3 linked regions of the Homo sapiens genome follow. The protein of the gene in region 3 interacts with the protein of the main gene of each other region in a pairwise test. Each region holds a gene or a part of one and is shown on either strand. Other genes may lie near its edges. The genes, in order: NAA20, DPH3 and ADIPOR1.

Evidence for each region.
Region 1: the proteins of ADIPOR1 (region 3) and NAA20 interact in a two-hybrid assay, tested with the Homo sapiens proteins (one large-scale study listed by BioGRID and IntAct).
Region 2: the proteins of ADIPOR1 (region 3) and DPH3 interact in a two-hybrid assay, tested with the Homo sapiens proteins (one large-scale study listed by BioGRID and IntAct).

Annotation. Positions count from the first base shown.
Region 1 is NC_000020.11:20,030,599-20,034,155, forward strand, and holds the end of NAA20 (N-alpha-acetyltransferase 20), read left to right. Parts: intron 1-1,909; coding exon 1,910-2,055; intron 2,056-2,503; coding exon 2,504-2,589; 3' UTR 2,590-3,057; downstream 3,058-3,557. UniProt on the Homo sapiens protein: Catalytic subunit of the NatB complex which catalyzes acetylation of the N-terminal methionine residues of peptides beginning with Met-Asp, Met-Glu, Met-Asn and Met-Gln. Proteins with cell cycle functions are overrepresented in the pool of NatB substrates.
Region 2 is NC_000003.12:16,259,134-16,261,984, forward strand, and holds part of DPH3 (diphthamide biosynthesis protein 3), read right to left. Parts: intron 1,697-2,851; coding exon 1,631-1,696; 3' UTR 1-1,630.
Region 3 is NC_000001.11:202,951,705-202,955,364, reverse strand, and holds part of ADIPOR1 (adiponectin receptor protein 1), read left to right. Parts: intron 1-1,057; exon of another isoform or gene 1,058-1,124; intron 1,125-3,660. UniProt on the Homo sapiens protein: Receptor for ADIPOQ, an essential hormone secreted by adipocytes that regulates glucose and lipid metabolism. Required for normal glucose and fat homeostasis and for maintaining a normal body weight.

The sequences.
Region 1 (3,557 bases), on a different chromosome or scaffold from region 3:
CACAGATATGATTATATAAATATAAAATCCATAAGAATATAAATATTTAGAATTAATAAAAGGCAAAGTTGTTGGATATAAAGTCAGTATAAAAATCAATTGTATTTACATATGAGAGGAAACAAAACTTACTTATTTTGCACAGATATGATTATACAAATATAAAATCCACAAGAATCTAGAAATAAATGTTTAGAATTAATAAAAGGTAGGCAAGGTTGTTGGATAGAAAGTCAGTATAAAAATCAATTGTATTTATATATATATAAACAGTAAAATTTAGAAAAAGATGCCATAGCATGAAAAAACATTAAGTACTTAAGAATCTAGCAAGTGCTATGCAAGACCTCTCTGACATTTAAAAAACTTTTTTGAGAGATATTAAAGTAGCCCTGATAAGTGGAGCGATAAACTATCACTGGATTAGAGGATACAGTAAACAGGTAATCGACCGCAGTTCCAATGTAATTGCAGTCAAAATCCCAAGCATTTTTTATAGTACTTGTTAAGCTGACTCTGAAACATACAGAGGAACAGAAAGAGCAAAAAAGAGACAAGATATTCTTGAACAACAACAAAAATGGGTGATGTGCCCCTCCAGGTATCAGACTGTAAAGAGTGAGACTATATCTTAGTGCTGTAGTTATCTAGACCAGTGTTACAGAATTTGAGAAACAGACCCAAGAATATATGGACTTTAACATACCACAGAAGAGGCATTGCACATCAATAGTATGAAGATAGACTTTTCAGTAAAGGTGGTTGGACAATTGGATGTCCCTATGGGAAAAAAAAATTTCCCAGATTACCATTATTCCATACACAAATCAACTCCAGATTTATTAAAAACCTAGATGTGAAACCAAAACTAAGAAGTCTTTTGAATATAATATGGCAGAGTGTCTCTGTGGCCTCAGTGTAGAACTTTTTAAAAAGGCCATAAAAAGGCTAAGGAAAGGATTCATATATTCAGCTTCACTGAAGTGAAGTAACTTTTTATCAAAAGATAACATAAGGATAATGACAAGACAAACCACAAATTGGAAAAAGATACTTGCAGACATTACACAGTATTGAATATTCACAATACATAGAGAACTGTAGCGGGGGAAAAATTGTATGAAAGATTTAAGTACTATACAGAAGGAGAAATCTAAATGGCCAACCAACAGAAATATATTCAGCATTGTTAGTAATTGGAAATACAAATTAAAATCTGAGATATAGTTACACTGTAAGATTGGCAAAAATAAAAACATGTGATGCACCAAGCCTTGTTGCTGTGGAATGGAGGCTTACTCACTTCTGTGCAAGAGTAAGTTGGTACAAGCCAGTTGGAAAAACAGTTTGGTATTAACTAATGAAGATGTGCCCTGTGACACAACAGTGAGACTCCTAGCTATAGACCTTACGTGAGACACTCAACAGAAGTATTCACAGGAGCATCGTTTGTATAGTAAAAGCCAGAAACGTATCAACAGGACCGTGAATGACTTGTGCACAAGCCCAGCCACTCTTGAAGCTGACTCTTACAATGTTAGTCGACTGAGAGAAGCAAAAGACAAAAGAATATATGATTCCATGTATATAAACTTCATAAACAGGAGAAACTGTAATAGGTGGTGAATTTGTAGAACAAATGCCTTGAGTTTATCTTTTAAGAAAACGTGTTGCTTTTGAAATACTAGCATGCAAACATAAAGTCATGTTCTTACACTGCAAAGTAATTGTCATAAATCCTAAGTAATACAAATTTCTATTACCATGTAATCAGCTACAAGGTCCTATTACTACCATTCTGAGTAGTAGTCAAAGCAAGGTAAAAACACGTTTTAAAAAAAATATGTATCTATTACTTTCTAGGGTTTCTCACATTCTAACATTTTCCTTTTTTGTTTTTCTTTTAAAGAAAGGGTGGATTTTTTGTGGATCTCTTTGTAAGAGTATCTAACCAAGTTGCAGTTAACATGTACAAGCAGTTGGGCTACAGTGTATATAGGACGGTCATAGAGTACTATTCGGCCAGCAACGGGGAGCCTGATGAGGACGCTTATGGTAAGCTCCCTTCCATGGCAGTATCCCCAAGAAGTCGAAACAGTTACATTCTTTCTACAGATTGTAGTATTTGATTATTTTAATAAATGTAGAATATTTGACTTTAAAATTTAAATTTCCCTCAACCTACCTTTATCAACCTATTAGTAGTAGTAATTAACTTACCTATTAACTAACCAATGGTTAATTTCTGTACCTTACTGTTTCACTCTGTTACATACATATTATTTTGCTAACAAGAAAACGTGTATTGTGAGCTGAATACTGGGTGAGGTCTGGTTAGCATCTGGTACACTTGGCAATTGGGAGACATTTATAAATACATTTTGCTTAGAATATGGTGAAGTGGGGGTAGGGATAAAACCTCTTATGGGAACTTTACCTATACACTTTACATTTGATATAATACATTTTTTGGGTGTTTATATTAAACTTTGCTTCTTTACAGATATGAGGAAAGCACTTTCCAGGGATACTGAGAAGAAATCCATCATACCATTACCTCATCCTGTGAGGCCTGAAGACATTGAATAACCCTGGGCAGTGGTTCTTAGGCAGATACTCTAGATGCTTTATGGACAATATTATTTTCATTGGATGATTCTGGAGCTCTATTAGGAGAAAAGTAATCATTTTAGGTCTTAAAGACTTCAAGAAAATACAGGTTATCAATTTATTTTAAATCTCATTGTTTCCAGTTAGCAATATCATACCTATTAAAGCTGTTCATTGTAACAAAATTCAATCAAAAAGGCAGCTAGGTCAGAAGGAAACATACCACTCTCATGGTTCATAGTATTCACTGTATGTATGCTAGGGAAAAGACTTGCTCCAGTCTCCTCCTCAGTTCTGTGCCTGAGAACCACTGCTGCATATATTTGTTTTTAAATTTTGTATTGAACTGTTAATTGAAGCTTTAAAAGCATATATGAAATGTATAAATCTAAGATGTATAATACATTATTGACTCTATGAATGTTTTCTGAAGTTTGTTAGTCATTTGTAAAACTAAATCAGATTGTAATCCCAGTACTTTGGGAGGCCAAGGCAGGCTGATTGCTTGAGGTCAGGAGTTTGAGACCAGCCTGGCCAAAATCTATACTAAAAAAAATACAAAAATTAGCTGGGCATCCCAGCTATGCAGAAGCTGAAGCACAAGAATTGCTTGAACCCTGGAGGTGGAGGTTGCAGTGAGCTGAGATCGTCCCACTGCACTCCAGCCCGGGCAACAGAGTAAGACCCTGCCTCAAGAAAAAAAAAAAAAAAAAAAATCAGGATTGTGAAAGGTCATCATCATTTAAGATACGTTTAATTAAATTGTGACTTCCATACGTAGTATTTTAAAAATGCACACTTGAAGCAATCACTGTCCAGCATACTTAAGAAGCTCCCTTCTTATCGTGTAGTAAATTCTTCCCAGTCACCTGCGTTCATACCATTATACTGTTTGTTTGTTAGTCCTAGATCTTTTCTCCTCTTCACAATGCTTTGCTTAAATCCTG
Region 2 (2,851 bases), on a different chromosome or scaffold from region 3:
CCACCATAGTGAGTGAGTACTCTGCTCTGTTCATCTGAGCAGTCACTTTGCTTTTGCAAAGCAGTTGTGGATTACTTCTGGGATGTCAGTGTCCCAAATGGCAATGAGATTTCTCATCACATCCAGAATATGCCACATAATGTACTGAGCATTTTCAGCTCGGTACATTATAATTTTTGGTAATTTATTGTCTCAGCCTAGTGGCTGCACACAGCCATGCTGCTGGCAGGTAAAAAAGGCTACTCACTTGTTTTAACGTCCAATGAATGTGTGCAGTACATTTACCAGTAACAGAACATTTACATTCTAGCAAGCTATTTTTCTAATTGCAGAAGCCATTCCTAAAACAACCTGACGGACATCACTGCATTAATAAATATTTTTTATTTATACACAGTAAAGTTGTGTATATAAAGGGAATTTTCAAATTTCCAATGTAAATGATTCTAATTTCTTGCTATGCTTAGTACTGCAGCAAAAGAAGGGTGATAGCCTATCTTTATATATTTCTTTTTCTCCAGGGCAACATTTCTCTGCAGGAGTGAATGTCTGGTTTGGCTGCATGTTATAGAGGCTTATTAAATATGCTCTCATGGGCATATTTATTCACAATAGGTCTCTCATTTTCAAGCTCATTCTCCGCTGTAGATGCTTTACCTTGTAGTAGTGACACAACACTGTGATATGCCAAAAGCACAGCTACCAGCCATGGAAATTTGACGTTAACCCCTACCTGGAATGCAATTTCATTAGCCTTATCAAAACACAAACAAAAACTCAGATACAGAAATATTACTTGCTCTGACCTGGCAAAGTCATTCAAACATTCCACTTACTACACTGGTATGCTTTGCTCCTCTCATTCTGTCACCAATTTCACTTCTTTTGGATGTTTTTCTTTTCATCTTGTCCTGACTTCCAAGGAATATGCAGAATATAAGAAAAGTCCTCATTCTTTCATCACTTCATTTTGGACTTTCTTTCTTGTTCACTAACTTTTAGCTCTGGAGACATTGTGACCTCACTGTATTTTCTCTTTAATACTATGACCAAACTCTCTGCATGAAGCATTACAGAAATGACACGCTGAACAGAACATGTCCATTCTAATGGGAAAACTGAGGAGACTGGCTTGGTATAGAAACTGGAAGTGTGGTACTGATGAAGCAACTAATTTTAAATTTAGAACAGCAAAGCTGATGTCATATTTCAAAGGAAGGGCTAATTTTAATAATCTTAATAACCAAGTCAAAAATACAATCTCTTTTTTATTAAGAAATCCTAATGACTGAGGTAGATGATGCTGTTGTCAGATACCGAAGTAATTTGGTTTAAGATATGAAAATGATGAAACCAAGGGAAAGAAAGCACTGTTTTGAAATTATCTTCTTTTAAATTTAGATGCATAATTAAGAATGCTTCCAATTTAAGGTTCTAAGCACAAAATCCAGATATGTCATGTTATGGACTTGCTTCCTGAAGATGATATCAGCAGTTGATAGAAAGAATCCACACTCTTACAGAACAGCAAATCATAAATGGTTGTCTCTGTGAAGCCAGTAGCTTTGCATTCGATATTTCTATCTGGGCTCATTCCAAATGTTCAGGATTTGGATTCCTGAAGGCTTCTTCAGCATTTAACTAATTCTTTGTTGGCTGAAGGGGCTGGGACTGTTTCTCCACACACAAACTGATCCTAAGACAGAGTGAGAAATGACATTAACCAATGAATTTCCGGTCACAAATACATTAATATTAAACCTTCATTTTGTTACAGCATCAATCCAGCGCTGTTAATTGTTTTTCATTTGCTATTATCATTTCATCCTTGTTCAAAGAGCCAATGACAGCACCAGAAGTAGAATCTTAAACATGTATCAGTTTTTTGATCTGAATTCATTATTTAATACAAAGCACCTTATAAACAAACATCCCTATCTTCAGTTCAGAGCAACCACTTCTCAGAAATCACATAAAGACATGCCACATATTTTAAATTTCTGTATTAATTACTACTTACACTAAAACTTCTCCACTTTAATATTTGGTCATTCAAATACCAGTCCTCTTCAAAGTAATTACTTCTTCTAACTAAAAGGGACAGGTCTTTATGTGGTTCCCAACATGGATAATCTGCTATGTTAGCTACTTTGTAAATGAAGTTCAATCTCTGGTCTTTTATCCTGGCTTATGTCAGCTACCACCAAAAATCTCTGCTTCCAAGGTTATCCCTCACCTCCAGCAATCTGATTCCCGAAGGATCAGCCCCTACTCTGTCCCTGCTACTCTGTTGCCCAATATGTGGAACCCTTTCACTGTGCCCTTTGGAATTCATGGTCCATTGTTAGCACAATGCTTCATATTCTCAACCTCTTTCTCAAAATGTCCTTTTATCCCCAAGAGCACTGGTAATATCTGGAAACAGTTTGAATTGAAACAACTGAGGATTGCTATTGGCATCTAGTAGGTAGAGGCCAGGGATCCTGCTAGACATCCTATAATGCACGGGGTATCTCTGAACAACAAAGAATTATCAGGCCTAAAATGTCAACAGGGCTGAGGTTGAGATGAAGTCATATTCTTAAGGACAGTTTCCCCTACAAGCCCATCTAGTGGAGGCTCTGTGTTCTCAGAGTCCTAGTACCAGAGGGATTGGAAGTGGGGCTAGTTCCTCCTTTTTGCCTCCATTCTCCTTTCCTGTCTAAAACCCATCAGTTTAGAATCTTATGTCTTGAGACTACCGCCTTGCTATTCTTCTCTGTTGCTGTCATTTATCCACCCTGGATGCCATATTCCAACCCCTCTGGACCTCCACCATATTCATCCTACCACCCTTTCACTGCCCCTCACT
Region 3 (3,660 bases):
TCCCGGTTACTAAGACTTGGGAAGCTAAGGTGGGAGGATCGCTTGAGTCTGGCACATTGAGGCTACAGTGAGCTGAGATCACACCACTGCACTCCAGCCTGAATGACAGAGCAAGACCCTTTTAAAAAAAAAAAAAGACTTCTGTTGGGGAAGAGCTACAAAGGAAGTCAGACTGTTTTTCCACTTCAGAGTCTGGGACGCTTGGCATCGAGTAGGAGAGCTGAGGCCCTATATACTGTAGTTCGGTGATTTCAAACATGTGCCTTTGCTTTGATTCATATTTCTCCAACAAAGCTGTGAAATTATCCTGCCTAAGAGACAGTAGATAGGGGAAAAATGGCTGTATTCTTTATCTATACTGCTAGACTGGTCTTGCTTTAGGACAAGAATCAAGCTAGGTATGGATAGAGGCTACCCATAGACTCTCTAAAGGCCCAGGAACTAAACTCTTAGAAACTTTGTGTCTTTGCCTCCAGGAAAGGTGTGCCGTAGCCTGGAAAACTTGGGAATTGGTTCACAATATAAATGTCTCCAAAAACTATAAGTGAAATAACTCTCCAGCTAACTGGCTGGTGATTAAAAATCAATCTTTTCCCCATGTTTGGCACAGGATTATCTTATTTATAGGAGTACAAACAACCTCCCTGCTCCACAGCTTTACTCTCTAATATCCTAGGTTTACCCAGTTGGAAAGCTTAGTGGTAAAGGTTTATTAGCTTGAGTTGAAGAAATCTCATCAAAAATGCACTCAGTCGAGTTTGGCTCAAATATAATTTGCAGTATTGGGTGTGGCAAGCTTGAGGGGAAAGGCATTTCCTCTAAAATACGTAAGGACATAGAAAGCTGGCAGAAGGTTGGCTCACCTAGGATCGTTCTAACACCTTAGGGGTTTGTTCTGATTTTACACCATAGACTAAAACACACTTGTAATTCTCCATTGTTTGTGAGTGATCCACCCCATAGAAGTGGTATTTTCAGATCCTAGTATTATTTGCTCTTCTTTCTTGCCAGACGTCCGATCCCTATCTCTCCCTTTCCTGTCTCTGTGTTACTACAGTTTAGAAGACCAAACTGGACAATGGACTTTGCTCACTATGATGACATGATCTCCATTGACCTCCATTGTATGTACTTTAATGCATGATGATATATTTTGTATGATGAGTTGTAGCTGATGGCTGGTTTGTGAGTTAACTGGGGTCTCAGGTTTTGGTGACTCTGGGTCTAGAAGATGTAGAGAGGTGGTATAGGAGCTAGTGATAGAGGAGCTAGAGGGAATCGGAAGAACTAATAGTAAATGATTTGGACTGAAAAAGGAAAAGACTTTGATGATAGCCAGAAGACTTGAGGGCATAAAAACTTTTCAGATCAAATGATGAAATTAGTAAGAATGCCAATCTGGATTCTGCACATGATCTTTGGACCCTAATTGCCCAACTTAAATTTTCTCTATATTATTCTCATTGCCTCTAGTAAAATAGTTACATAGCACTCAAAGTTACTAAATTTAGTGTGTGACCATTCTAGTTGAGGGGTTCTCTCCCTCCACTGCCCTCCTGGAGCAATCAAATTGTATCACTTATTTTTGTGCATATCACAAACTACCTATGTTATCTGGCTCTTTGAAAACAATACTATAACTTGTTCAACTTGTATTTTGCACAGTGTCTTGTATTTTGCACAGTGTCTTAGAATGCCTTAGGGTGCTAGTCCTAAATACACTTGCTAAATATTCAATGAATGTGTTGACTTACTCTGGGGAAAGGGATAAGAGAAGCCACCACAAGCACAAGAAAATGCACATAAGCCCTTATCTAAGTGGCTAGAAGCTAAGTCATATGCTGGCAAGCTGGAATCTGCCCCATTCATTCATTCATTTTGAAATGGGTTCTAACTAAAATAAAGTATATTTATTATTTTATGATCCATGTATTGCATCTCAGAACCAGAATTTTGTTTTGTTTTGTTTTGTTTCTGCCCTGGTAGCCTGATCTAAGTTACTTCCAACAGTAACTTAGTAAGTAACAAGCTAAGTGTGCCCCTCTTTTCAGATTTATCTAAGATGCCCAAAAATATTTATGTTTTTTGCTTGTGATATAAAGTTGTTTTTTGGTTTTTTTTTTTTTGCTTGCGATATAAAGTATTTTTTAGTAAAGCTGCTGATTCAGTAGTACTTCACTTTGAGGAAATATGTTTTGAGGTCAGCCTATTGAGAAAGATTTCCTTGTGTCCCTCTCACACGGGTTGCCCATCCTCGAGGTTTTCATAGGCTTCCAGCTTCCTGTTCTCCTTAGCTCAATTGTTCACTATGACTGTGTGCTGGCATCTCGTCAGAGTCTTGCACATTTAAAGGAAGAGGAACTGTCTATGTGTTGACACCATATAAAGGTCTGCTGTATAGCAAGTTATTGTTTTTGTCTCTCTTGGACTAGATTGCCGGTTGCTTTCAACTGTGCTTGTGGGTTGAGCATAGCATGACTCATGACTGTTTAGAAGCTTGAGGATTGCCCTTACCTGATGTGTTAGTAAGTGTTCTCCAGAAAGCACCAATAGGATACATACATATGGATAGAGATGGGATTTATTCGGGGAATTGGCTCATGAGATTATGGAGGCTAAGTCCCACACTATGCCATCTCAAGCTAGACAATGAGGAAAGTCCATAACTGGTTCAGTTTAAGGCTGAAGGCCTGAGAACCCAAGGGGCTATTGGTGCACGTCCCGGAATCCCAAGGCAGGAGAACCTGGAGTTTCTGATGTCCAAGGGCAGGAAAAGAAGGGTGTCCCAGCTCCAGGAGGGAAGGAGGGGGAGAGACAGAGAGAGTTAGGGAGTCAGAGAAAGAGATTTATAATCCCTGAGAAGGAATTGTGATTACTCTTAGATAAAAAAGAACTGACACAAGATATCAAAGATATTTGTATATAGTGAATAGCCATGGATGATATAGTGTCTCCCTCAGGAGCAAAGTTATGTTTACTGCCCAATATAAAAGATTGGGGCTCCCTAAGCTTAAGTTTCCTCTCCCGGAATGCAACCCACTCCATGTGCAGTTGTTACCTGGCCCTCCCTGCATTGCAATGTGGTTATTTGGGTTTGGGTGGGGCTTGGGTAACCAATGCAAGAAAATGCTAATATTCTGGCTACTGCTATTGCTATAACTAATAAAGTCCTTTGTATGGGGGTAGAGGTGGGGAGAGAACTAATAATTTACAGCATAGTGGAAATCTTTGGAAACTTTCTCCCTCTTTCCCTCTTTTTTTATTTGCATTTCCCTGAGGCCTGTTTAAAGACTACTGTGAAAATCCAACCCAGGAAAACCTAAAGTGTCTGAGATTTTTCCTAGAAAATGGAATTCTGGGTTTTTCTGATTTTGTGTGTGCCTGTCTCTAGTTTCTGAAATACTCATTTGAGTAGGGCTTAGATTATGGGTTGTGGTGGTTGAAACAAGTTATTGTGGAGCTGGTTATTAGGTATGTGTGTGGCAAAGGGTAAATTGGGGCTGCCTCCTTGTCTTCACCTTCCTGCTTCCAGGTAAGTTCTTGCTTGCTTGCAGGACAGATTGTGATGAAAGCTTGTTATCCCAGGGTTGAACTCAGGCTATAATCCTGTAATAGAATTAGTAGACTTCGCAGAGAAATTAACCACTAGGCATCTGTCCC